Regions from separate parts of the Homo sapiens genome. Here all the other regions are linked to region 3. The links come from fine-mapping of genetic effects on gene expression. A gene starts in region 3. Each other region holds a variant in brackets. All regions are shown on one strand. Distances are from middle to middle. Region 1 overlaps GIT2 (GIT ArfGAP 2). Region 2 has its middle 7.0 kb from the start of TCHP. Region 3 holds the start of GIT2 (GIT ArfGAP 2).

Region 1 (8,179 bases), 66 kb before region 3:
CAGCTCCCAGCACCCTCTCCCATCTCAGAGCAGGGTTGGGGCCAAGCCCTGGGGCCATGAATGGCAGCAGGAGGCAGACAGTCCTGGGTGGGAGTGGGCAGGGTCCCCAGTAAGGCCTCACCTACAGGCCAGGGGGGGCCTGAAGGCTGGGGGCCAGGCTGCCAGTCCTGCAGACCTGAGTGGGGACTTGTGGTACCTCTTACGGGCCTGCCCATGGCCACCCATGGACCAGTCGGCAGGCACTTCCTCCCCCTGTGGTCCATAAAAGCCCTGGGCTCAGCCAGAGCAGACCAGAGGATGGAGAGGGCGGAGAGATGATGACGGGACAACCAGCTGCAGAGAGGAGTGCTCTCTCTGATGACAGCTGCAGATGATGGGACGACTCCTCTACTACTGCAGAGAGGAGTAGTACCCTTTCCCCTGAGAGCTGCAGAGACAACCTGCTGGCAGAGAGGAGCTACCCTCTCTACTGAGAGCTTCAGAGACCTGCAGAGACGTCCGAATGACTTGCCTGTGGAGAGGAGCCACCCTCTCCAGGGCCTCCTCTCTGCTGACAGCTGAACACTTGACGGGACGACCTGCCTACAGAGAGGAGCTGTTCTAACACTAAATAAAAATCTTTGGCCAGGCATGGTGGCTCACGCCTGTAATCCCAGCACTTTGGGAGGCTGAGGTGGGTAGATCACGAGGTCAGGAGATCGAGACCAGCCTGACCAACATGGTGAAACCCCGTCTCTACTAAAAACACAAAAATTAGCTGGGCATGGTGGCACGTGCCTGTAATCCCAGCTACTCAGGAGGCTGAGGCAGGAGAATCGCTTGAACCCAGGAGGTGGAGGTTGCAGTGAGCCGAGATTGCACCGCTGCACTCCAGCCTGGGCAACAGAGCAAGACTCTGTCTAAAAAAAAAAAAAAAAAAAGAAAAAAAAAGTCTTCACCCTCCACTTGTCTGCGTACCTCATTCTTCCAGGATGCAGGACAACAAGAACTCAGGCAAAGGCACTGGCCAGATATTTCCAGCCAGAAAAATCGACACCCCAGAGATCCTGTAACATTGTGACTCCGCCGGAGGCTGGGAAGCGCACCCTGGTGGTGAAGAGGAGTAAGGAGCATGACAGCAACTGACACACTCTCTCCTTGGATGTGAGGCTCGGCCTCCTGGGCTGTAAACATCCTTATCTGAAAAATGGGAAGAAACCACTCACTTCATCTGGCTGTAGTGAGGATGAAATGAATGAACATGTGTCAAGAACTCAGCACAGGCCAGGCGTGGTGGCTCACGCCTGTAATCCTAGCACTTTGGGAGGCCGAGGCAGACAGATCATGAAGTCAGGAGTTGGAGACCAGCCTGGCCAACATAGTGAAACCCCGTCTCTACTAAAAAAAATACAAAAAAATTAGCTGGGCATGGTGGCACGCACCTGTAGTTCCAGCTACTCGGGAGACTGAGGCAGGAGAATTGCTTGAACCCGGGAGGTAGAGGTTGTGGTGAGCTGAGATCACGCTGCTACGGTCCAGCCTGTCTCAAAAAAGAAAAAAAAAAAGAACTCAGCACAGTGCCTGGCACAGAGGAAATGTCAGCTAAAATTATAATGATGACTTCACATGACTCTCCTACACTAAAACATGTTTAAAAGCAGAAGCCAAGGAGCTGTGTGGTGGGAAAGGCCTGGAAACGGTCTACAGCAGAGCTTCGCAGAGTGTGGTCCCTGGAACCTGTTAGAAGTGCCTACTCCTGGGCCCCACCCCAGAGCTGCTGAACCAGACTGTGGGGGCCCGGCATGGTGAGCCTGCCAGGGTTCCAGGAGGTCTGCTGCTGGCTCTTTTGAGCCTCCTTGCCTGAGGAGGTTGCTCTGGGTGTGAGCTGTGTGAGACACTGGTCCTAAGCCTGCACAGACGTCCCCCTGAACAAGCAGGATCACAGCGAGGACGTGGCATCTTTCTGACTTCTCACTTGGAAAAGTACCCGTGGTGCTCAGGCCCTACCCCACCCTTCTTCCATTTGGGAGTAGAGTCCCAAGTCACCTAACCAGAGGACAATCACTGGTGACCATGGGCAGCCCTGATGAACCCCCATGCAAATCTATACCAGCTCCCCCTAGGAACCTGCACAGGTGGCCTTTCTCTGAAAATAAAATAAGACCAGTGGTTTTAAGACACTGAGCTCATTCCAGGACCCCATCACCTGTTAGGAAGAAGGGAGGGCATCTGTGCTGGGCTGGCTTTCGCTGCATTAAAAAAATTAAACGTAGGGGCCAGGCACAGTGGCTCACGTCTGTAATCCCAGCAGTTTGGGAGGCCGAGGCGGGTGGATCACTTGAGGCCAGGAGTTCGCACCAGCCTGGGTAACATGGTGAAACCCCATATCTAAAAATACAAAAAATTAGCCAGGGGTGGTGGTGCATGCCTGTAATCCCAGCTACTTGGGAGGCTGAGGCACGAGAATCGCTTGAACCCAGGAGATGGAGGTTGCAGTGAGCTGAGATCACACCACTGCACTCCAGCCTGGGTGACAGAGTGAGATCCTCTCTCCAAAAGAAAAAAACATTAAACTTAGGGAATAAATATATTATGATAAGATGCATGGAACTAGTATCTTGATGCAGCGTTCAAAGAAAGCTATTTGCTCTGGGTGCCGTGGCTCACACCTGTAATCCCAGCACTTTGGGAGGCCGATGCGGGCAGATCACCTCAGGTTGGGAGTTCAAGACCAGCCTGAGCAACATGGTGAAACCCTGTCTCTACTAAAAATACAAAATTAACCGGGTGGGGTGGTGCATGCCTGTAATCCCAGCTACTTCTGAGGCTGAGGTAGGAGAATCACTTGAACCCGGGAGGCGGAGGTTGCGGTGAGCCGAGATCACGTCGAGCCGAGATCGCGTCATTGCACTCCAGCCCGGGCAACAAGAGTGAAACTCCATCTCAAAAAAAACAAAAAAACAAAACAAAACAAAACCTATTTGCTAAGCACAGAGGAAGAAAAAGATAGTCATTACTGTAAAACTGCAGAGCCCCAAAGCATATGAAACACTGCATCTCACTAATGATGGCGTTTTGGGAGAACTTCCTCAGACCTTTTACAGAGTATCTGGAAACATCAACTAATTGATGGGGAGCACAGCATTACCACAAAAACACTTGTAGAGCCTGTTTA[T/C]TGCATAACTAGCAGGCACAAATTCCAAAACGATTTTACAACACTTAAAGGGCACAATAATTACAGGAATAGAATGTACAATAAAAAGTACAGAATAATGAGTGACAGGGATCAAACACGTTGGAATAAAAGGCATCTCAGTTTTCCTATGCAGCATTTTCTTTTCTAGGAACACGTTACCTTCAACCAGGACAAGGAAAGAAAGAAAACTATACTATTGGAAAGCTCATGGGTGCCATTGAGGACAAAAACAGGCGAGTTTTGCTCTTGGTTCTGCAACTGAATCACTTGAGAAGCCGTGCACAGCTCCCGAGTTGTGCGTTTAGAATTCTGATTACATGAAATGCTGTGTTTGATCTTTGGGCCCAATTCACTGTTCTTTGGCAAATAAGAACTATTTGCATTCCAAGGCAGATGACGATTTCTGTGAAAGGAGCTTAGAGGTACAGCTGTTTCCTTCTGTTCAGTCAAGTGCCAGTTTCATAAAGTGCACCTCTGCCCTATCAGCTTTGGGGGAAGGGTGGCATATGGGGAGGAAGGGATCATTGAGAATACAGGGTGAAAAAGAACGACGTTACTGAAGGTAGACATTGCTAGTGCAAGGTACGGAATCCATGTGCAAAAGGTGGCTGGAACAAATGTTCAGATAAGGTGCGATTTGCCAACAGGAGCAGAGAACTCTGACACCAGATCTCAGATGAGGCCAAGGAAATGCGCGGGGCACATACAGAGAGGACGACCTGCAGCCCTCCAATGGCCACGTCATTCCACCGGGGAACTTGTTTGGAGTTTTGGCACCGTGGGCTAACCGAGCACTCTTCTGACATATTCTTACAACTGGAAATGCTTTGTTGGTCCCCATGTTCCTTGACTTTCTCTAGGGCCATAAAGGCAACATCTTCTATTGCAGGTCCTCAAACATTCCAAGGAAAACACTGCTTCACCTCCTGCAGACAGCTCATTTCCCAGAAGCCTCTACAGAAGCCCGTCCTCCCTGGGACAGCAGGGGCAGGGGTTTGCAAGATAAAGGAGGGTCAGCTAAGGACATGAAGCCTGCAGAAAAGGCTATCAGATGGCGCCTGAACTTAAGGTGGGAGGCCCCCTTCTAGAAGGCATCCCGGGAGCATCCAACAGCAATGTGGCACTTAGGGCTGTGGGACAAACAAGTGGAAGAGTCTTTTGGAGACGTGGACCCTTTTCCCATGCTACTCACAGTGAAGCAAAATGCGACAAAAGCATCCACACACGGTGACTTAGTAAAGCAAGCACCGTCGGGGTGCTACTTTCATGACAGCATATGGTCAAGCTATAAAGGTGTGCATCGATCAGTCCTGTGAAAATAGAAGCTTAGTTATTAGCATGTATTGAGGCAACTTGTACTTTGATTCTTGTGTCTTCTTCACATGTGTGAATGACTGCTATGGGACAGAACATATGGTTAAAAACAGGAGCGACAGCAACATAACACACAGGGTTGGCCGGCTCCATTACGGGTAAGACTCAGAGGCTGCTCCAGGTGTGTCCGGGGAAGCCAGGCCCTCACACTGCACAGCTTACAGGGCCCTGGGGTGGGGGCTGTGAGCTGGCAGCCTAGAGGACACAGCTCACCTGCACATGGTCTCTGAAAGTGTTCAAATTGGTTGCCAACATTTATAAATGGAGAGATGGCACCAAAAAACATCTAGGTTTCTTGTCTCTTGAAAAATCAAAGCTGTGGCCACCCTAGGCCCACTTTTCCACATGGCAACAGGCGTGGAGCTGGGGGCTACTGCCCCTACTGTGTAGGCGGTGGGCTCCCCATAGTCTCCTCTGCCCTGCTGCCGTGTACCTGGCTCCCTTCACTCATCCACATCACCGGCCCTAGGCCAGGGTCTGAACCACACACACAGAATGGCTGCAGTAAGCAGGAACGGGAAGAGCTTTCACATTCAGAACAAGAAGGGGCTTTTGAGTAACTAAAAAACAATCTGAGCATGTTCCAGCACTTCAACCTTACTCTTTCAGAGCTTTGGGGTAGCAGGCAGCCAGCTAGAGCACACTCTCTAAGGAACTCTTGAAAGTTGATGTCTAATTTTTAAGTACTCATGAGGTGATGGAGGAGAAACTAACTCAGATGACTGCGATACGATACATCTTTCCTTATAAGAAGTCCTTAAAGATGATGAAAAATGTGAAGCAACTCATGTGAGAAAGCTGTAAGTGGTCAGAGAAGCAAGCTGACTTTTGGATGAAGGGTACAACACAGTGTCAGGGAGTAGGTGATTTCTTTTCCCTATAGTTCATGGTAGTGATACCTAAATGGGTGGCACAAAATGAGTTCTGGCTTGTTAGACTGATGCTTCTCTTTGCTGCAGGTTTTGAACAAACTGTCTGGCTTACAGGGGTGAGGGAGAGCACCTGACAATGGGTGGTGATGTGCGTGGAGCTCCTACCCTGAACATGGCTTCATGAGATGTCCTGTGGTGGGTCAATGCTTTATCTCATTCCATGGAGCCTTCAAGATGACAAGAAAACATCAAGAGATAGGAGCTTGAGATAACAACATTAAATAACAGAACATGTAACAGGGTAAAACACTGAGAAGAAATGAACCAATTCATTGTTTCCTCCCAAGAGAGACTGTGACACTAGTTTTAAAAAGCGGCAAAGTCCTTTCTCTACATACATGCTTGGAGATACCCCAAACTTAGAGATTATGAAGTAGGCCAGGAAATTCACTTATTGCACGATGCTTGGCAGGGAACAAATGACGCTGATTTTTTCTTTTTTAACTGAACTCTCTCAAGAAAATGTTTTATGAAAAATTTCATTTATAGTTTCAGCCATAGGCAGGGAGTTTTAAGGGATGGAAAAGTTTTCACAAACTTTAGACAATGAAACTATACTTTTGGATGTATGTGATCAACTCAACAGTTGTTGACAACACAACCGAACATCAGAAACTAAACCAGCAAATAGGCACAAAATAAGGCAAGTGGGTTAAATAGTTGAAAATTGGTTAGAAAACATGCAAAAATAATACTGAGTTTTCTTTTAAAAAGTTTTAAACCGTCATTAAATGTTTCTTTTTGTAGAAATCTGAAGAGTTCTGCGTCTGAATTTGAAATTGGACTTTATAAAGCCTAGAAAACAGAGGAGGCGGTGCCCTGCCCTTGTCAGTTGTTGTTCTCTTTGGTGGTGATGGTAACCAGCTGCTTGGCAGCCTTGGCGATGTCGTACGCACACTGGATGACCTGCTGCGTGACCAGCTGAACGTCTGTGGGTGAGCCGGGGTCCCCTGGGAGGGTCTTCTTGCACTCTGACTGCAGTCGGTAGGCACTGGACGTCAGTAAACGAAGGGAAGTCCTCACCATATCAGACTTGGGTTTCTAAAAGGAAAAAGACAGCCGTTTACCCTGAACTGCAGGGCAGACATCCAAAAGCAGGGGACAAACATTCTTCTAAAGCAAACCAAGCTGCTCCCCAGAGTGAAAGGCGGTTTGGTCCTGCCCTTTCTCAAAGGGGTGCTTCACACACTCCAAGCTTTGCAGCCCACAGCGTAAGAGATGCTGAAATATTCTGATTCAAAGGTCAAAGTGCATGCAGGGTAATTTTAGTAGTATGTGGTATTTTGAAGTAGTTTTTGAAAAATATTAATCCATGTGGGTAAAATATTCCAGAAAATCCTATAAATTTTAAAATGTGCCTTTTAGCACGACTTGTATATCCTTGTCTTATTAAATCAACATTCATGCAGAACAAAAATATTTCAAAGCTCTATACGACTGCATATTTTATTTTATTTTACTTTTTTTTGAGACTTGAGTTTCACTCTTGTTGCCCAGGCTGGAGCGCAATGGCACGATCTTGACTCACTGCAACCTCCGCCTCCTGGGTTCAAGCGATTCTCCTGCTTCAGCCTCCTGAGTAGCTGGGATTACAGGCATGCACCACCACGCCTGACTAATTTTGTATTTTTAGTAGAGACAGGGTCTCTCCATGTTGGTCAGGCTGGCCTCGAACTCCCGACCTCAGGTGATCTGCCTGTCTCGGCCTCCCAAAGTGCTGGGGTTACAGGCGTGAGCCACCACACCCGGCCTCGACTGCATATTTTAAAACTGCATGTGCTACAAAAAAGCTAATGTAATATATAGGTCATAAAGAAATTTCTTGCTGTTCATTTAAAAGGATTTAAACCAAGTGAGTAGGAAGTGACTTACTTTGGGGAATAATGCTGCCATTTCTGTAACAGCTACGTGTATCCTCTCTGAGCAGGGAATATAACTGCAAGAATATTGAAGAAGTTATTCAATGACAGTAAAAATGATTCGGAGGCAAAGAGGACTCAAGTGCTAGAACAGATTCTGTTTACATTCCCTTCATGAAGGGGCTAGGGCTGCAGTCAGCCGTGCATCCCACACCACCAGAGGGCACATGGTTATAAAGCAGGACTCTCATTGCTTCCTAAAAGTTCAATCTGATGAAAAGTCTCCAGGTATGAAATATGGCAACATACACTCTTGGTCAGGTGAGGCCACACAACAGTACAGAAACATAATTCACCCCTCCTCACGTCAGTCATTTACTTCTCATGTGTTTCATCGTCCCAATTTCTAGAAAGAGAAAGGATTTCCATGCAAAAGGCCACAGAAGTGAAAAATAAAGGACTGAAAAAATTCCTTAAAATTAGAATTGGAGTCTCTCAAGTAGCTGGAACTTCAGGCATGCACCGCCATGCCTGGCTGATTTTTAAATATTTTTTTGTAGAGGAGTCCCACTATGTCGCCCAGCCTTGTGTTGAACTCCTGGATTCAAGTGAATCTCTTGCCTCAGCCTCCAAAGTGCTGGGGTTACAGGTGTGAGCCACGGTGTCCAGCCCTTTCCCCATTTTTTAAACCATGAAGTTGGCTTCTGAATAGATTGTCATAAGCAACTTATGCACTTCACCTTTGTAACAAGTCTAGTTTCAAAACTATTATAATTAAAACTGTCGGCCGGGCGCAGTGGCTCACGCCTGTAATCCCAGCACTTTGGGAGGCCAAAGCG
Region 2 (8,179 bases), 100 kb before region 3:
GACCTCATCTCTACAAAATTAAAAGTAAAAGACGACTCTGGGCTGGGTGCGGTGGCTCATGCCTGTAATCCCAGCACTTTGGGAGGCCGAGGCAGGCAGATCACGAGGTCAGGAGATCGAGACCATCCTGGCTAACACGGTGAAACCCCGTCTCTACTAAAAATACAAAAAATTAGTCGGGCGTGGTGGCGGGCGCCTGTAGTCCCAGCTGCTCAGGAAGCTGAGGCAGGAGAATGGCATGAACCCAGGAGGCAGAGCTTGCAGTGAGCCTGCTGCACTGCACTCCAGCCTGGGTGACAGAGAGAGACTCCATCTCAAAAAAAAAGACGACTCTGGAAGAAAATCTATTCTTGCCTCTTCCAGCCTCTGGTGGCTCTAGGCATTCCTGTCTCACTCCAGCCTCTGCCTCCATCTTCATGTGAGCTTCTCCTGTGTGTGTGTAAATCTTCCCTCTGTTGTTTCATCTGTAAAGTTAGGACAGTAGCAATGCTAACTCCCTGTCAGGGCTGATGTGAGATTTCAATGGGTTAATGTAGATAGAGCAGTTTGCATGCTGGCAGGCAGGCAGCCCTCGATGAATGGTGTGGCTATTATGAATCGATTTACGGAGTTATTTCTACCCAGGACTGGCAATTGTGGGGATAATTGATTCCAGTGATGTCACCTCCCCAACTGCCAGGTTTTCAGCAGGACTAAATGTGCCAAATGGGCTTTGTTGAGCCAACTCCTCTGGGTGTTAAGAGCCACCATGCCAATTCTCCTTGCTGCTTCTTGGGGCCCGTCTGCCGCCTCTCCCTAATTAATGCGAAGGCGCACCCGCCAACAGGCCCACTTGCTGTCATCCCAGGAAACACCCAAGTGGGATACAGCCAAGTTTTGGACATTTTTTCAGTTACTGGATAAAAATAGTATTTTGATCATTTTAACAGCACAGAGAAGAGGGAGAATGCCACCTTGTCCTCCATCTACAGGGGCAGCCTCAGGGGCTGAGAGGGCCTGGCCTTTGTAGTCTCACATGGATAAACTGTTCTAAGGAAGCCTGACTGTGTCACAATCCTAAGACAGTGTCATAGCACACTACCATTATCATTAAATTGAAGAAACATGAAAATGAACCAACCTGTGCAACACAAAAGACCTCATCTCTACAAAAAAAAAAAAAAAAAAGTTAGCTGGGCATGGGGGCGCATGTGCCTGTGGTCCCAGCTACTCAGGAGGCTGAGGCTGGAGGATTGCTTAAGCCCAGGAGATAGAGGCTGCAGTGAGCCATGATTGTGCCACTGCACTGCAGCCTGGGTGAGAGAGCAAGACCCTGTCCCAAAAAGAAAGAGAGAGCAAGCCAACCTTTTTCTTTTTTCTATTTTTTTTTTTTTTTGGAGACAGGATCTCACTCTGTCACCCAGGCTGGAGTGCAGTGGCGTGACCTCGGCTCACTGCAACCTCTGCTTCCCAGGTTCGAGCGATTCTCCCACCTCAGCCTCCCGAGTAGCTGGGACTACAGGTGCATGCCACGACGCCCAGCTAATTTTTGTATTTTTAGTAGAGACCGGCTTTCACCACGTTGGCCAGGCTGGTGTTGAACTCCTGACCTCAGGTGATCCACCTGTCTCGGCCTCCTAACGTGCTGTGATTACAGGCACGAGCCACCGTGCTCAGCTGACCTTTTTCATTCCATTCAGTTCCGCAATCACTACTGGAACTTTTCTCTCAGACCAGGCTTTGCCAGGCAATGTGGGGTCAAAGATGGAGCTCTCTCAAGGAGCTCACAGACTGGTGGTGTTAATGGCAATGAATCATGTATGAATCTGAGCATTCAAAAATGAGGACAGGCATTAGCACACAGCCTCTGCCTGGCAGCTAACGAGTCCGGGTAATGGTTTTGAACCCCTAGGGTATTTGTTCCTTTCTTCTCTTATTAACTTCCCTGGGTGAAAATGTTTTGAATACGGAAAACAAAACAAATCACATTGGAATTTGTACCTCTATGGTAAACTACCTGTACAGTTTTGATTCCATGGGAACACTTAGGTTTAATTTTGAAGCAAAATCTAAAGACCAAAGTTCCTCACTGAATTAATTTTATAGTAAGCACAGTTTAAACATCCTTCTCTATAGGAAAATTGTAACTTTCGCTTATTTTTATTGGTACTTCTAATGCTGTGTAGTTGAGTGAGTAAATGTGCTATGGTCAGTTCTAACTAAAGGAGAAGATATAGTAATGGGCTTTCTTAATATTTCCTTTTTTTTTTTTTTTGAGACAGAGTCTCACTCACTCTGTCGCTCAGGCTGTAGTGCAGTGGTACAATCTCCCCACTCACAGCAACCTCCACCTCCCAGGTTCAAGCAATTCTCCTGCCTCAGCCTCCCAAGTAGCTGGGATTACAGGTGCGCAACACCATACCTGGCTAATTTTTTGGGTTTTTTTTTTTTAGTAGAGACTGGTTTCACCATGTTGGCCAGGATGGTCTTGAATTTCTGACCTCAAGTGATCCACCTGCCTTGGCTTCCCAAAGTGCTGGGTTTATAGGTGTAAGCCACTGTGCCCAGCCCCAATATTTGCTTTTTTTTTTGAGACGAAGTTTTGCTCTTGTCGCCCAGGCTGGCGTGCACTGGCGAGATCTTGGCTAGGCTCACTGAAAACTCTGCCTCTCAGGTTCAAATGATTCTCCTGCCTCAGCCTCCTGAGTAGCTGGGATTACAGGCATGCACAACCACGCTCTGCTAATTTCTGTATATTTAGTAGAGACGGGGTTTCACCATATTGGCCAAGCTGGTTACCAACTCCTGACCTCAGGTGATCCACCTGCCTCAGCAAGTAGAAACCTTGTCTCAAAGTTTCTACTCAAGGTTTCAGTAGAAACCTTGTCTCTACTGAAAATACAAAAATTAGCTGGGCGTGGTGGCGCATGCCTGTAGTCCCAGCTACCCAGGAGACTGAGGCATGAGAATTGCTTGAACCCAGGAGGTGGAGGTTGCAGTGACCTGAGATTGTGCCATTGCACTCCAGCCTGGACAACAGAGCAAGATACCATCTCAAAAAAAAATCATTTATTTAATGCTTCAATGAAAGCTATGGAAGAAAAATACAGTATGTCCTGACACCAAGTGACCTGGTCAGAGGGAATCAGGAGGGCTTCTCCAAGGAAGGGACATTTACACTGGGATCCTGAAGTCTGAGTAGGAGTTAGCAGAGGGGAAGGGTCTTCCAGACAGAGGGAACAGCATAGCAGGAAAGGTGGTGGTGAGAGATAAAGAAATGACCAGTGTGGCCAGTGATGTCAGCAGGGGACCAGACCAGGCTGGACACAGTGGTATGGGCTTCATGCCAAGGGAAATGGGGAGCCATGGAAGGTTCAAGGCTGAGAAGATGATGGAACTGCTCTGATGTGGTCTACCAGTCATCTTGAACTTTGGGACTTAGGAAGTAGAGGTTGTCTGTCATCCAGGAATGGCCAGTGGGTGCCTGTGGGCAGGAAAGTCACAGAAAACACAGGACTGACCTGAT[GC/G]CCCATTTTGGTGGACTGTGCCCCATACCTGACACCCCAGCAGAAGGGAATTGGTGCGGGATTTGGGATGGGAACCCTGATGCACTGTAAAGACCATCAGAGTGCTCTGCCCAACTACTCTAAGCCTCAGTGGGGTTACTCTAACTCATACTCCTAGAGACACTGTGAGGATGAAGGTGGTCACCCAGGAACAGGACAATCAAGGTTCAGTAACTGGTAAGCAGGTGTTGGCTGAGTCTCCTCCTCTTTGTGGCTTCAGTTTCTGCCTCTACACACGGAGTCTACCAGCTGCTTTCACTATCACGCTGGCTCTGCCACTTACCTCATTTAGGCACACACTCCCCATTTCTGAGCCCCCATTTCCTCCTCTATAAAGCAAGGGCTTTGGGTGGGGTGAGCTTCAGCAAGCTGGAACCTGTGGTCTTAAATTGTGAACATCAGGCCGGGCGCAGTGGCTCATGCCTGTAATCCCAGCACTTTGGAAGGCTGAGGTGGGTGGATCACCTGAGGTCAGGAGTTCAAGACCAGCCTTGCCAACATGGTGAAACATGGTCTCTACTAAAAATACAAAATTAACTGGGTGTGGTGGTGCATGCCTGTAATCCCAGCTACTCAGGAGACTGAGACAGGAGAATCGCTTGCACCTGGGAGGCAGAGGCTGCATTAAGCTGAGATCTGCACCATTGCACTCCAGCCTGGGCAACAAGAGTGAAACTCCTTCTCAAAAAAAAAAAAAAAAAATTGTGAGCATCAGATCCAGCAGGGCATCTTGTCACCAAGGATTGCTCTTGGGCCCAGTCCCCAGAGAGAACTCTAGCTCTGGGGAGGAAGTTGGATGTTTATCATGTGTCTTTCACAGGATACTTCTTTATGCTGGTGGCTTGCCTAATGCCAAAGTGTCCCATGACCCATGACCAGGTGTCCTTCTCCCAGGAAACATGTTGAGATCGGCTGATGCCCTTGTGGCTCTTGTTTCACCTATATCCAGTTTATTCCAAACAAGACAGCCACTCTCTAGGAGAGCCTGACCGGGAGGGGTGAGCATTGAGTTCAGGTGTGTTGGTCGAGTGAAACACAGAGGGAGCAACTCAACAAAAATAGCAGAAGCAGTTTATTACTCACAGATCCAGAGAGCAGCGAGCAGGGTTTGCATAGCCAATGGAAATGGGAAGCTATTTGGGACATGTGTGCTTAACCAATGGGGACAGAGAGAGAGAGAAATATGGGCTAAAGACTTTATTGGAGGCCAGGCACGGTGGCTCATGCCTGTAATTCCAGGACTTTGGGAGGTTGAGGCACGTGGATTACTTGAGGTCAGAAGTTCAAGACCAGCCTGGCCACTATGGTGAAATGCCATCTCTACTAAAAATACAAACATTAGCCAGGCATGGTGGCAGGTGCCTATAATCTCAGCTACTCAGGGAGGCTGAAGCAGGAGAATCGCTTGAACCCACGAGGTGGAGGTTGCAGTGAGCCAAGATTACACCACTGTACTCTAGCCTGGGCAACAGAGTGAGACTCAGTCTTAAAAAAAAAAAAAAATGTAATCTCAGCACTTTGGGAGGCCGAGGCGGGCGGATCACGAGATCAGGAGTTCAAGACCATCCTGGTTAACACGGTGAAACCCTATCTCTACTAAAAAATACAAAAAAATTAGCCGGGCGTGGTGGTGGGCACCTGTAATCCCAGCTACTGAGGAGGCTGAGGCAGGAGAATGGTGTGAACCCGGGAAGCCGAGCTTGCAGTGAGCCACCAAGATTGTGCCACTGCACTCCAGCCTGGGCAACAGAGCAAGACTCCGTCTCAAAAAAAAAAAAGAAAAAAAAGGCCGGGTGCAGTGGCTCATGGCTGTAATCCCAGCACTTTGGGAGGCCGAGGTGGGCAGATCACCTGAGGTCAGAAGTTCAATACCAGCCTGACCAACATGGAGAAACCCCATCTCTACTAAAAATACAAAATTAGTTGGGCGTAGTGGCGCATGTATGTAATCCCAGGTATTTGGGAGGCTGAGGCAGGAGAATCGCTTAAACCCAGGAGGCGGAGGTTGCAGTGAGCCAAGATCGCGCCATTGCACTCCAGCCTGGGCAACAAGAGCGAAACTCTGTCCCAAAAAAAAAAAAAAAAAAAAAAAGACTTTGTTGGAGTCCAGGGCATTCCCCTAGCAGGTTTCCCTCAGGGAGTTCTACTTGTTGGGTTTAGAGCTAGTGGGCATGTGTTCCAGGAGGTCACACTGTGACTAGGACTGGTCACTGCAGCATGACTGTGCCATCCAGGCAGGGGGTGGGGTCGGGGGGTGAGTCGAGTAGTTTGTCTTCAGCTGTCCCATAGGGAGGGGGTCAGCAGTTGCATAAGACAGATACCTGGGTTGACCACCTTGAGGAACTGGGAGGAGGTGGAGAATGGACTATGTCAAGGGTTGACTGAGACCTGCTTTTTATATGAGAAAGTCTAAAATATTCAAAATGGTTGCCCAGGCAACATAAAATTACAGGAATTCACTACAGTTCCCCAGCTGAAGTAATGGTATGGTTCAAGGTTCAAGAATTACTTTTTTTTTTTTTTTTTTTTCAGAGACAGTGTCTCATTCTCTCACCCTGGCTGCAGTGCAGTGGCTCAATGATGGCTCACTGCAACCTCGACTTCCCAGGCTCAGGCAATCCTCCCACTTCCACGTCCCAGGTAGCTGGGACCACAGGTGTGCACCATCACACCCGATTAATAAAAAAAAAAATTTGGGTGGAGATGGGGTGGGGGGTCTCTCTATATTGCCAGGCTGGTCTTAAATGCCTGGGTTCAAGCGATCCTCCTCGGCCTCCCAAACAAAGTGTTGGGATTACAGGTGTGAATGACCTCACCTGACCCCATTGTTATTTTTTTAAAACACAAAGCTGGGGCTCTGAGAAGCAGCCTAGTAGCCCCAGGGTCTTTGAGCCCACCTGTCTACTTCTGCGGTCTTGTCTTCAGGTGGGGTGGGGTGTGAAGCAAGAAGCTGGAGTGGTTGGTGTTGAAATGTCATACCTTCACAACGGTACCTGCTAATTAAATGATGGCATTGTGCGGCTTCCAGTACTGTCATGTTTCATCTAATGGAGAGCGGCTCCCATAGTGTCACCCCCTCTCCCTGTTCTTGTTTTCTTCTCCCATGCTAGGATACCTAAAATCACAAGTCCTGGAGCAGCTCCAACCTGCGGGTTCCTACCAGGGCTTTCCCTCTCAGCCCCCTGCACGCCGTAGTCATTGACCTGTCATTGAATATTTCATATTGCCAAATTCTTTGTATGTTCACATTTGCAGGCCTCTTTTTTTTGAGATGGAGTCTCACTCTGTTGCCCAGGTTGGAGTGCAGTGGCATGATTTCGGCTCACTGCAACCTCTACCTCCCAGGTTCAAGTGATTCTCTTGCTTCAGTCTCCTGAGTAGCTGGGACTACAGGCACGCACTACCACACCTGGCTAATTTTTGTATTTTTGGTGGAGATGGGGTTTCACCATGTTGCCCAGGCTGGTCTCGAACTCCTGACCTCAAGTGATCCATCCGCCTTGGCCTCCCAGAGTGCTGGCATTACAGGCGTGAGCCACTGTGCCCGGCCGCAGGCCTCTTTTAAGAGCTACACTTGCAAGCCACAAGCTCCCAGAAAAACACACTGAAGAGGGATTCACAGTCTCAGAGGTTTGTTGTAAATCCTGGCTTTTATAGTCTTTGCTGTGTGACCTCAAGAGAGTTGATTCACCTCTCTGAGCCTCAGCGCCCTCATCTGCAAAATGGGGGCAGGAACAAACTCCTCCCAGGTTGGAGGGAGGCTTAAATGAGATAATATATCTCAAAGCACCTGGCACATAGCAGGTGTTCAAGAAATGCTCGTTCCTTTTCTTCTTTTTGCTTTCTCTTAACACCATAGATTCCTTTTTCCTTTGGAGGAGAAGAAAGTACTCAAAATAGGGGATCCATTCACTTTTTCATTCTCAACACAAATATTGATTGAGGCCGGGCATGGTGGTTCATGCCTGTAATCCCAGCGCTTTGGGAGGTTGATGCCTGAGGTCAGGAGTTCAAGACCAGCCTGGGCAACATGGCAAAACCCCAACTCTACTGAAAAAAAATACAAAAATTAGCCGGACGTGGTGGCGGGCACCTGTAATCCCAGCTACTTAAGAGGCTGAGGCAAGAGAATTGCTTGAACCTGGGAGGCAGAGGCTGCAGTGAGCCAAGTTCGCACCACTGCACTCCATCAGCCTGGGTGATAGAGTGAGACTCTGTCTCAAATATATATATAGATAGATATAGATATATAGATAGATAGATAGAGTGCTTACCACATACAAGGCATGGCATGGGGAATGCAGCAAGGAACACGATGATCCCTGCTCTTGTGTTGCAGCAAGAGGGCTTAGGCACTGGGATCAGGCAGAACTGGTTTCAAATCATGGCTCAACCACCTATCAGCTGCGGCTCCTCAGGCAAGCCATGCCACCTTTTCGAGGCTTAGTTTAGGCAATTCTAACATGGGGGCAATAAGATATCTCATAGAATGCCCAAGAGGAGCAAAGGAAAAGGCACTTGTAAAGTTGCTTAATAGCGACAGCCAGCAGCTGTGTAATCAAGAGGTTCAGAGTTGAACTGTGGGGGCCGGTGAGGATGTCTGGCCAGCAAAAGAGAATGGAGGCTGTAATCTG
Region 3 (8,179 bases):
CAGGCGTGAGCCACTGTGCCCGGCCAAGATAATATAATTTTGACAGTGAATTATGCAGATAGCATTTTCTGCAGTAAATGTTGTAGACTGCTGTCCTAATTCACTGCTATGAATCAACATGTCAATATGCTTAGCAGAAAGCTGCGAGTTACAGAATCATAAAATCACTCAGCTGCTATGGTTCTGAGGACAGGGAAACCTGGCCTCTTCCATTAGGAAATGTTCTATGATGTCCATGAATTGGTTTGTTTGTCTGTTTGTTTGTTTTGAGACAGAGTCTCACTCTGTCCCCTAGGATGGAGTGCAGTGGCGCAATCTCGGCTCACTGCAACTTCTGCCTCCAGGGTTCAAGCGATTCTCCTGCCTCAGCCTCCCGAGTAGCTGGAATTACATGTGTGTGCCACCAGCTCGGCTAATTTTTGTTATTTTTAGTACAGACGAGGTTTCACCATGTTGGCCAGACTGGTCTCAAACTCCTGACCTCAGGTGATCCACTCACCTCGACCTCCTAAAGTGCTGGGATTACAGGCTTGAGCCACTGTGCCCAGCCAATTAATTGTTTTACATAAACTACCAAGTCCAATCCTGCAACTGATCTGAAAAAAAAAAAAGAAGTTGCAATAACAGCAGCTTCACAGAGGCAAAGATGTAAAATAAAAATGAATAATATTTTTAGTGTGTGTATAATACTTTTTTCCCTTTAAAGTCATAGAGCTTCATTAGCTGTCCTTTGAAACAAGGAATAATTTCATACTTGGCAAGCAGGATGGATCTGGGTAAGTAAACTGAATACCTAGAAACCTCAAATAAAGAAAGAGCTATACTTCGTCAGACTCACAATGGGGTGACAATAGGTGCCACTTAAGCTGCCTGGTCAAAGGGTTACATTTAAAAATTCTTCAATGTCCACAAAAATCTCTAAAATGCATGTACACCATCTTTACCATTTTTTAAGAGTTTATTCAAACCCTTTCAAACCATATAATGAAAAGTTATGGGCTTTCAATCAAAGACGAATCCTGGGAGCCAGTGAGTATGGTGGTTAAGAGGGTTGGCTCTAGAGACAAGGAGTTCAGGGTTTGAACCCCAACTCTGCCACTTCTTGCACAATGATCTCAGACAAGTTACTTGAGTGTTTTCACCATGGTTCAAATGAGAACAATGACAAATCTCGGGATAGTAAGGATATAGAGAATAAGTGAAGTACCTCACACATAGTAAAGTAGTAATGTTAGTTGTTATATCTTTTCTAAATTATTTTCTCAGTATTCAGATATTTTCTAGACGTGAAATTCATGATCACTGGACAAAGTTTTTGATGGGAAATACTTAAAACATTGAACATTTCATGTGACCACTCTACTACTGTACTGAAAATCTCCATGGAGTTTTCAAGTAATTGAACTCAGAGTGTGATGTATTTGAAATGAACCAGATTCATTAAAAAAAAAAAAGTAGAATATTTAAGAAGATGTGATCATGGTTAAATGTTTGCATAAAATAAAACAGAATCAAAATAATTCAATTTAGTATAACTCTGTCGCTATTACTGTATCATCCTAAAAAGCAGAGATTGGAAATGTCCAGATGAAGGAGCTCTACAAAGATGCATTAACAACACTGCTTCCTGCAGTATAGTACTGACACTAATGGCAAAAAAAAAAAAAAAAAAAAAAGACTGTTTTGAAGCATAGCTTTGGTTTTCACTTATTCAGAGGATTTGCAGTATTCTTTTTTTAGCAAGTATTTAACACATATTAATTAAGACAAGTATTCGACTAACCACTTTAGCATCCTGGATCAGAATCCCATGGAAAGAATATTAGAATGTTAACATAGTAAAATAAAAATGTTTGTATGAATGAGATTGGGTAAAACCCTTTAAGTTCATCTGGAGCCAGGGCTCCAGGGACACCACAAATGAACTTCAAAAATGTTTGTGACTCCCCCAGACAAATCTTAGGTAAATTCGTTCACGTGCATTTTAGGGGAGAAGGCCTTAGCATTCAACAGAATCTCAAAGGGGTCCCTAACCCTACAGGTAATTCTCTCAGTAGGGCTGTGCAGAAAAGGCAGCACAAATTCCCAGCTGCTCAATTTCACAGAATATTTCAAGGTAGCCTAATTATATTCAAAACAGGAAGGAAGTGACTCAAGTCTCTGCAGATTAGGCGTATGAGACAACAACTAAAGCGATACAATGGAAGAGAAAATGTTCTGAAATGCACAAAATGCTGCAAAAGTATATTTAGGATGGCAATGGAGGAACAATTTTGCTTTGCCCTGTACCCTATCAAGAAGCAAAACAATATGCATTCCAAGAGGAAGTTAGAAGCTAGACACATGTGAATCAAATACATCACGGTAAGTTCAACTGAAAATAGGCAAGAAAATAAGGAAGTGGAACAAATAACATTTTTAGAGAAAATGATGGAGTTTGTATAACTCACACTAACTTGGTTTAGAAAACACTTCTTTTTAAACTCCTCCATACCCCCTCCCTATCTTCAAAGGAAACTGGTAACACCTGCACTGTACGGGCCATAAAACAACCACATGAGGTTTGAGTTATCACAGTTCTATTTACAATTGGTCTCCACTTCCAAATGACAAGCTTAAGATCAGAACAGTTGCAAAGCCAGTGGTGTTCAATGATTTAATTAAGATTGTTTATCGGACACTATTGTGCCAAGAAAGCCATGTTACCTTCGAATTAACTCAAAGCCAATACATCCAAGCACCTAAAACAGCATGTAATAATCTATCCAGAGACCTGACAATTCAGTTGCAATTGCTAAGACACACTTGATCTCTAAATGTGAATATTATGTATGAACAGTTATGCATCATTATGAAGGAATGGCTTTAGCGTTTCAATGCCCCTATATTGCTGGTGATTTTGCGTTTGTTTCCGTTGTAATCAACGTATGATTTAGATAGTCAAATATAGCTTTAAGGGACTACAAGAGTTCTACTGTAGACAGCATAATGCAAAAAAGAAAAGCCTTAGATGATATGATTCTACGAGTATTCATTGAATCTTCCTCACCACTAAGCGTGATACTCCCGATTATCCTCATTGAAAAAAATGAGGAAATCAAGCAAGTGACCAAGTGAAGTCACCAGCCCAAGGTCAGCCAGAAGCAAAATCTAGTTTGAACCCAGGCCGTTCAGATCCTCAAACTTGAGACAAGCACTGCCTCCTAAGTGCTGGTTGTGTTTGGAAGACCCCGATCTCCTGGCAATTCTCCCGGGCAGAGTAGCTGTCGGATGTCAGCAGCGGGGAAGTCATCTACGGGGACCCTCTGGCGAGTCTCAGGGAGTGTCATCCTCCCCGGGCAGGACACCCAGGCGGAGAAAGGGTCTAGTGGGAGGTGACACCTGCAGCCTCTGGAGGCTGCAGCCGGGAGGACGCTCACATTTTACTTCTGTAATTGGCTTTCCTGTGGATTGCCCAAGCCCCTTCCTGTTGGGGGAGCAGCCCTGGCCCCCGTCACCTCCCCAGTTGGCCTAGGACGGAGGGAACGGGAGGGAACGAGAGGGAAGGGAGGGCCGCGAGGGACGGGGAGGGCGGCGGCCCCCTGCCCGCCCGGCTCTGACAGGCCCGGGACGGTTCCCACCCCAAGGCCGCCCAGGGACCTCTTCGTTGCGACCCTAGCCGCGGGATGCAGCCTGACCTGAGGGGGCGGCCCCGGGGTAGGGGTCCGGGCCAGGAAAGCAGAGGGGAGCGGGCCCGGCCGGTGCGACTCACCCGGCCCGCTGCAGTCAGCGCACACCTCGCTGCTCCGGAGCCGTTTCGACATGGCTCCCACCTCCCACCTGCGGGGAACTAGAGGCCGGGGGACAGCAAAGGCGGCGGTGGCGGCGGCGCTTCCGCTCTAACGGGTCCCAGCTGCGGCGGCGCTGACGGCGGCGCCTCTCCCCTCAGCGCCTTGCAGCCTTGGCACAGCACGCACGCGCGGGGAGGTGCCCTTCGGCGAGTGTCAGGTCATGTGACCGGAAAGGGCACTCTGCCTTGTCGCCATCTTGAGTGAGGGCAGGAGACTGCCCGAGTATCATCTGTCCTACCTTTAAATATTGAATTTGGGTCTTCTTCTCTGGCAGAGATTCCCCTCGTCCCAACTGATTAATACCAGGGGAAGTAGCAATATCTTGTGATGAGAACCCTGCAGCCACAACCTTCCTGAGGCAATCAATGGTCAAGTTCATTCATTCATTCCTTGATTCAACAAATGTTTATCAAGCACTTACCATGCTTTATATACTGTCCCAGCCACTGGAGAAACAGCAGTGAGCAAAGACTGAATTTCTAGTCCTTATGAAGCTTGCATTTTACTGGGGTAAAGTAAAATAAGAATATATTATATGATTCCAGGCTGGGCGTGGTGGCTCACTCTTGTAATCTCAACTCTTTGGAAGGCTGAGGCAGGAGGATCACTTGAGGCAGGAGTTCGAGACCAGCCTGGGCAACATGGTGAAACCCCATCTCTACTAAAAATACAAAAATTGGCCGGGCGCGGTGGCTCACGCCTGTAATCCCAGCACTTTGGGAGGCCGAGGCGGGTGGATCACGAGGTCAGGAGTTCAAGACCAGCCTGGCCAACATGGTGAAACCCCGTCTCTACTAAAAATACAAAAATTAGCCGGGCACAGTGGCAGGAGCCTGTAATCTCAGTTACTTGGGAGGCTGAGGCAGGAGCTTGAACCCAGGGGGTGGAGGTTGCAGTGAGCTGAGATCACGCCATTGCACTCCAGCATGGGCGACAGAGTGAGACTCCGTCTCAAAAAAAAAAAAAAAAAAAAAAAAATTAGCCGGGCGTGGTGGCGCATGCCTGTAATCCTAGATACTCAGGAGGCTGAGGCATGAGAATCGCTTGAGCCTGGGAGGTGGACGTTGCAGTGAGCAGAGATCGCGTCACTGCACTCCAGCCTGGGGGACAGAGCGAGACTGTCTCAAAAACAACTTCAACAACAACAACAAAAATAACAAAAAAGAATATATTAGATGATTCCTTAGGCTTCAGTTTTAATCTCATGTTCAAAATTAAGATAATGCATTGTTTACTTCTAGTCCACGATTTGTTTTTGTATGGCTTGCTACTTAAGAATGATTTTTACATTTTTAAAGGGTTGCGAGATGAAAATGAAGAAGAGAGAGAGGGAAATAAAGAAAAAGAGGAAGAAGAATATGCGACAAAACTTGTATGTGACCAGCAAAGTTAAACATTCATTTTGGCTAAGGACAGATGGAATAAATTATGGGAAAAATGTGATACACCTGCTGGATAGTAACCCCTCAGTAAATAGTAGCTCCCATAATTATGGATATTGCTATTATTTTCTAATTACTGTTTTTCTTCATATGCGTGGAATTTGAGAATAACAATAGCTAACATGGGATAATTTACAAAATGGTGTGAGATAAACACAATGAAATGAGGTAAATCAGTGTGAAGGAGAAAGGAGATGTGACCCTAATACCAATGACTACTTATTGTCTGTCTTACATATAAACACAGCTATGATCTCCATTCAGCAAATATTGAATGCCTGTTGTTAGCCAGGTACTATTTTGGTTTTAGATACTCTGGTAAGCAAAACGATGTGGTTCCTGTCATTATGGGGTTTTCTGATTAATGAGATAGGGAGATTTTCAATAAACACGGCATGATGAAGAAGAAGGAGAACGTTAAGTTGCAAAAGGCATCTGAAAGAATGAGAAGTGCTGGAAAAGGCCTCAGAAGCACTGGTCTTGAGTCCATCTCTACAGTGTGATAAATGTGTGATGGAGAAATAATCACAGAATTCCCACGCATTCCATGGTTAGAGTCTCCGGGTGCCATCCTGGTGCTCCTGCATCCTGTTTTGGTTTAACAACTCACAAATCTTCTGGGCTCCACATCTGTGGAGAATGGATTAGGTTGGGATTCTTGAACAGCTGTTGTTGCAGGCATCTGAAGAGCTGGATGTGCATACACTCAGAGGGCAGAGGGAATGTTTTCACAATGCATTAAATAGCTTCATCCAGCTATGTGGTCTAGTTGTAGACAGCTGAGCTGAAGCAGCAGCAGAAAGTTCAAGCCCATGAGTAGCTAGCTGTAAGTTGATTTGGTTCTTCATTGAGTCAAGGAGGCATAGTGCCTGAAACTCAAAGAATAAACTTCATATTCGCAGACTGTGGTCAAATATGTATATTATTTATCAGTCCTTTCAGCCATAACCTCAAATCCAAAAAGCTAGCTTAAAAATGACATTCATACATGGACTAAATCACCACCATAGTTAGCTATTGAATCATAACCCGGTTCGGAGTTCAAATAGAAGCGGTTCTCAACTGAGGACGATTTTTCTCCCCGAGACGACATTTGGCAATATCTGGAGAGACATGTTTTGGGGAGTGCTACTGGCATTGAGTGGGGAGAAAGACCAGGGCAACTGCTCAGCATCCTACAAGGACCGGACAACCCCCACACAAAAACTGCCCAGTTCAATATGTGCCGAGGTTGAGAAATCATGAAGTAGAAATATCCCCTTTTATGCAAATACTGTATTTGAAGCCACTTCGCCAGGGTTTAGCGTTCCTCCTTCAAAAATTGTCCGGTGTTGCCCACTTCCAAAATGGCTTTTGACCCGTCGTGGAAGCATCTGTCCTGCTCCAAAAAGGCTGCAAGGGTGTCGGCAGCTGGAATGGTTTGGTCCGGGGCTCAGTTGTCACCCCCTGACTTCAGAGCCAATGGAAGAGGCCCAGTTGTGGACCGAACCACATGGGGCTACTGGAGCAGGGGGAAAGAAGCTGGGGACAGGTAGACGGAACTTTCCGCGTGGAGATCTTTGGCCAAGAGAATGAGCCTCAGCTCTGTTCTGTGGGCTGCACTGAGTTTCTCGGTGTGAGCTGGAGGTGGGTGCAATGGCGCGGACCCCGGACCCGGTGCCCAAGGTCGCCTATCCCCGCCGCGGCATGCGGTGGTTCGCTCTCCGCACTTCCCTGTTTGGGGCAGTTAGGTCCGCAGAAGTCTGTCCGCGAGCTGTCAGCGCGGGCGGGAACGCCGCGGGGCGCGGGGTGGGCGCGGCCGACCTGGTCCCTGAGCCGGCCGGCGACCCCGGACCTCCCGCGCGCCCCGCACCCGACCGGCTCAGCCGGCCGGCAGCGTAACACGCCCTACGCTCGCTTGCTCGCCGGCCTCAGGGCAGGCAGGCGGGCGCGGGAGACCCCGCCGGGGCCGAGACTTGGGGCGGGCGACGAGGACCAGGTTACGGCCTCCTCGCCATGTCCTCGGCCTGCGACGCGGGCGACCACTACCCCCTGCACCTCCTAGTCTGGAAAAACGACTACCGGCAGCTCGAGAAGGAGCTGCAGGGCCAGGTGAGGGGCGGGGCGGGGGTCCGTCTCCCGGTGGGGACTTCGGGGAATCGGGGGTCGTTTCGCCTCCCTGAGCCCATTTCCAGCCCTCTGTCCCCGGGATCCCCAGACCCCTTCCACTTTGCAGGTGTGGGACAGTCCTAATAATAGGACACGTATCGAGTGCTTACCGTGCGACGGGCTTTTTAAATATCTTCTCTCTTCACCTTTCCAATAACGCTGGTGGGTAGGTACTGTTACTTTTCCACTGGACAGAGAAGGAAACAGGTCCTCAGACGCTACGTGCCTTGTGCGAGGCCGCCCCGCTGATAAATGCCAAGTCGGGATTTTAACTCGGGCCGGCTGGCTCCGGAATGCACCGTCTTAACCATTTTTAGGTTCTGCTGCCTCAAAGACGTAAGAATAGCACACTCTCCTTGTTGTAAGGAAGGGCTTGGTTGGTTTTGGAGTCCAGGTTCTAACTCGCCCTGTGACCTTGGGCAAGGCATTTTCCCTCTCTGGCCGACGTTAACTTAGCTGTAGAATGAGGATGTTGGTGCTGGGGCAGAACCCAACACTTGACTCTATTGATAGGTCTGGGGTGAGGTCCAGGTGCCGCATTTTTAACAAACTCCCCAGGGAGGCTGATACCTAGCAAAGTTTGAGAATCACGGGTTCTCAGGCTCCTTAAAATCCCTTCCTGTTCTAAAGTGCTTTGATGCTTTAATCTTTTCATTATTGCTATCTCTTTAAAGCAGTAGTGCTCTCAGTTGGAGGTGATTTTGCACCCACGACCCCCCGGGGACATTTGGCAATGTATGGGACATTTTTGGTTGTTGA

Evidence for each region. PIP is the estimated chance that this variant, and not a neighbour inherited with it, causes the effect.
Region 1: its variant is fine-mapped to the expression of GIT2 in whole blood (TOPMed, PIP 0.99).
Region 2: its variant is fine-mapped to the expression of GIT2 in blood mononuclear cells (TOPMed, PIP above 0.99).

The regions. Positions count from the first base shown.
Region 1 is chr12:109,926,669-109,934,847 of GRCh38, forward strand. It overlaps GIT2 (GIT ArfGAP 2), which reads right to left. Exons shown (of 20, transcript NM_057169.5): 19 at 7,354-7,417; 20 at 3,136-6,522. The coding sequence ends at 6,310. Among named protein-coding and RNA genes, the nearest start is that of TCHP, 30 kb to the left of the region's middle. RefSeq lists enhancers at 1-263, 5,960-7,159. The variant T/C (reference allele first, on the strand shown) is at 3,155.
Region 2 is chr12:109,889,152-109,897,330 of GRCh38, forward strand. It overlaps a transcript of TCHP not described here. Among named protein-coding and RNA genes, the nearest start is that of TCHP, 7.0 kb to the right of the region's middle. RefSeq lists a silencer at 2,667-2,726. The variant GC/G (reference allele first, on the strand shown) is at 3,506.
Region 3 is chr12:109,992,422-110,000,600 of GRCh38, forward strand. It overlaps GIT2 (GIT ArfGAP 2), which reads right to left and starts at 3,947. Exons shown (of 20, transcript NM_057169.5): 1 at 3,752-3,947. The coding sequence starts at 3,803. It overlaps ANKRD13A (ankyrin repeat domain 13A), which reads left to right and starts at 7,009. Exons shown (of 15, transcript NM_033121.2): 1 at 7,009-7,363. The coding sequence starts at 7,268. RefSeq lists enhancers at 3,218-3,267, 3,958-4,117, 6,733-6,922 and silencers at 3,598-3,687, 7,003-7,122, 7,133-7,222.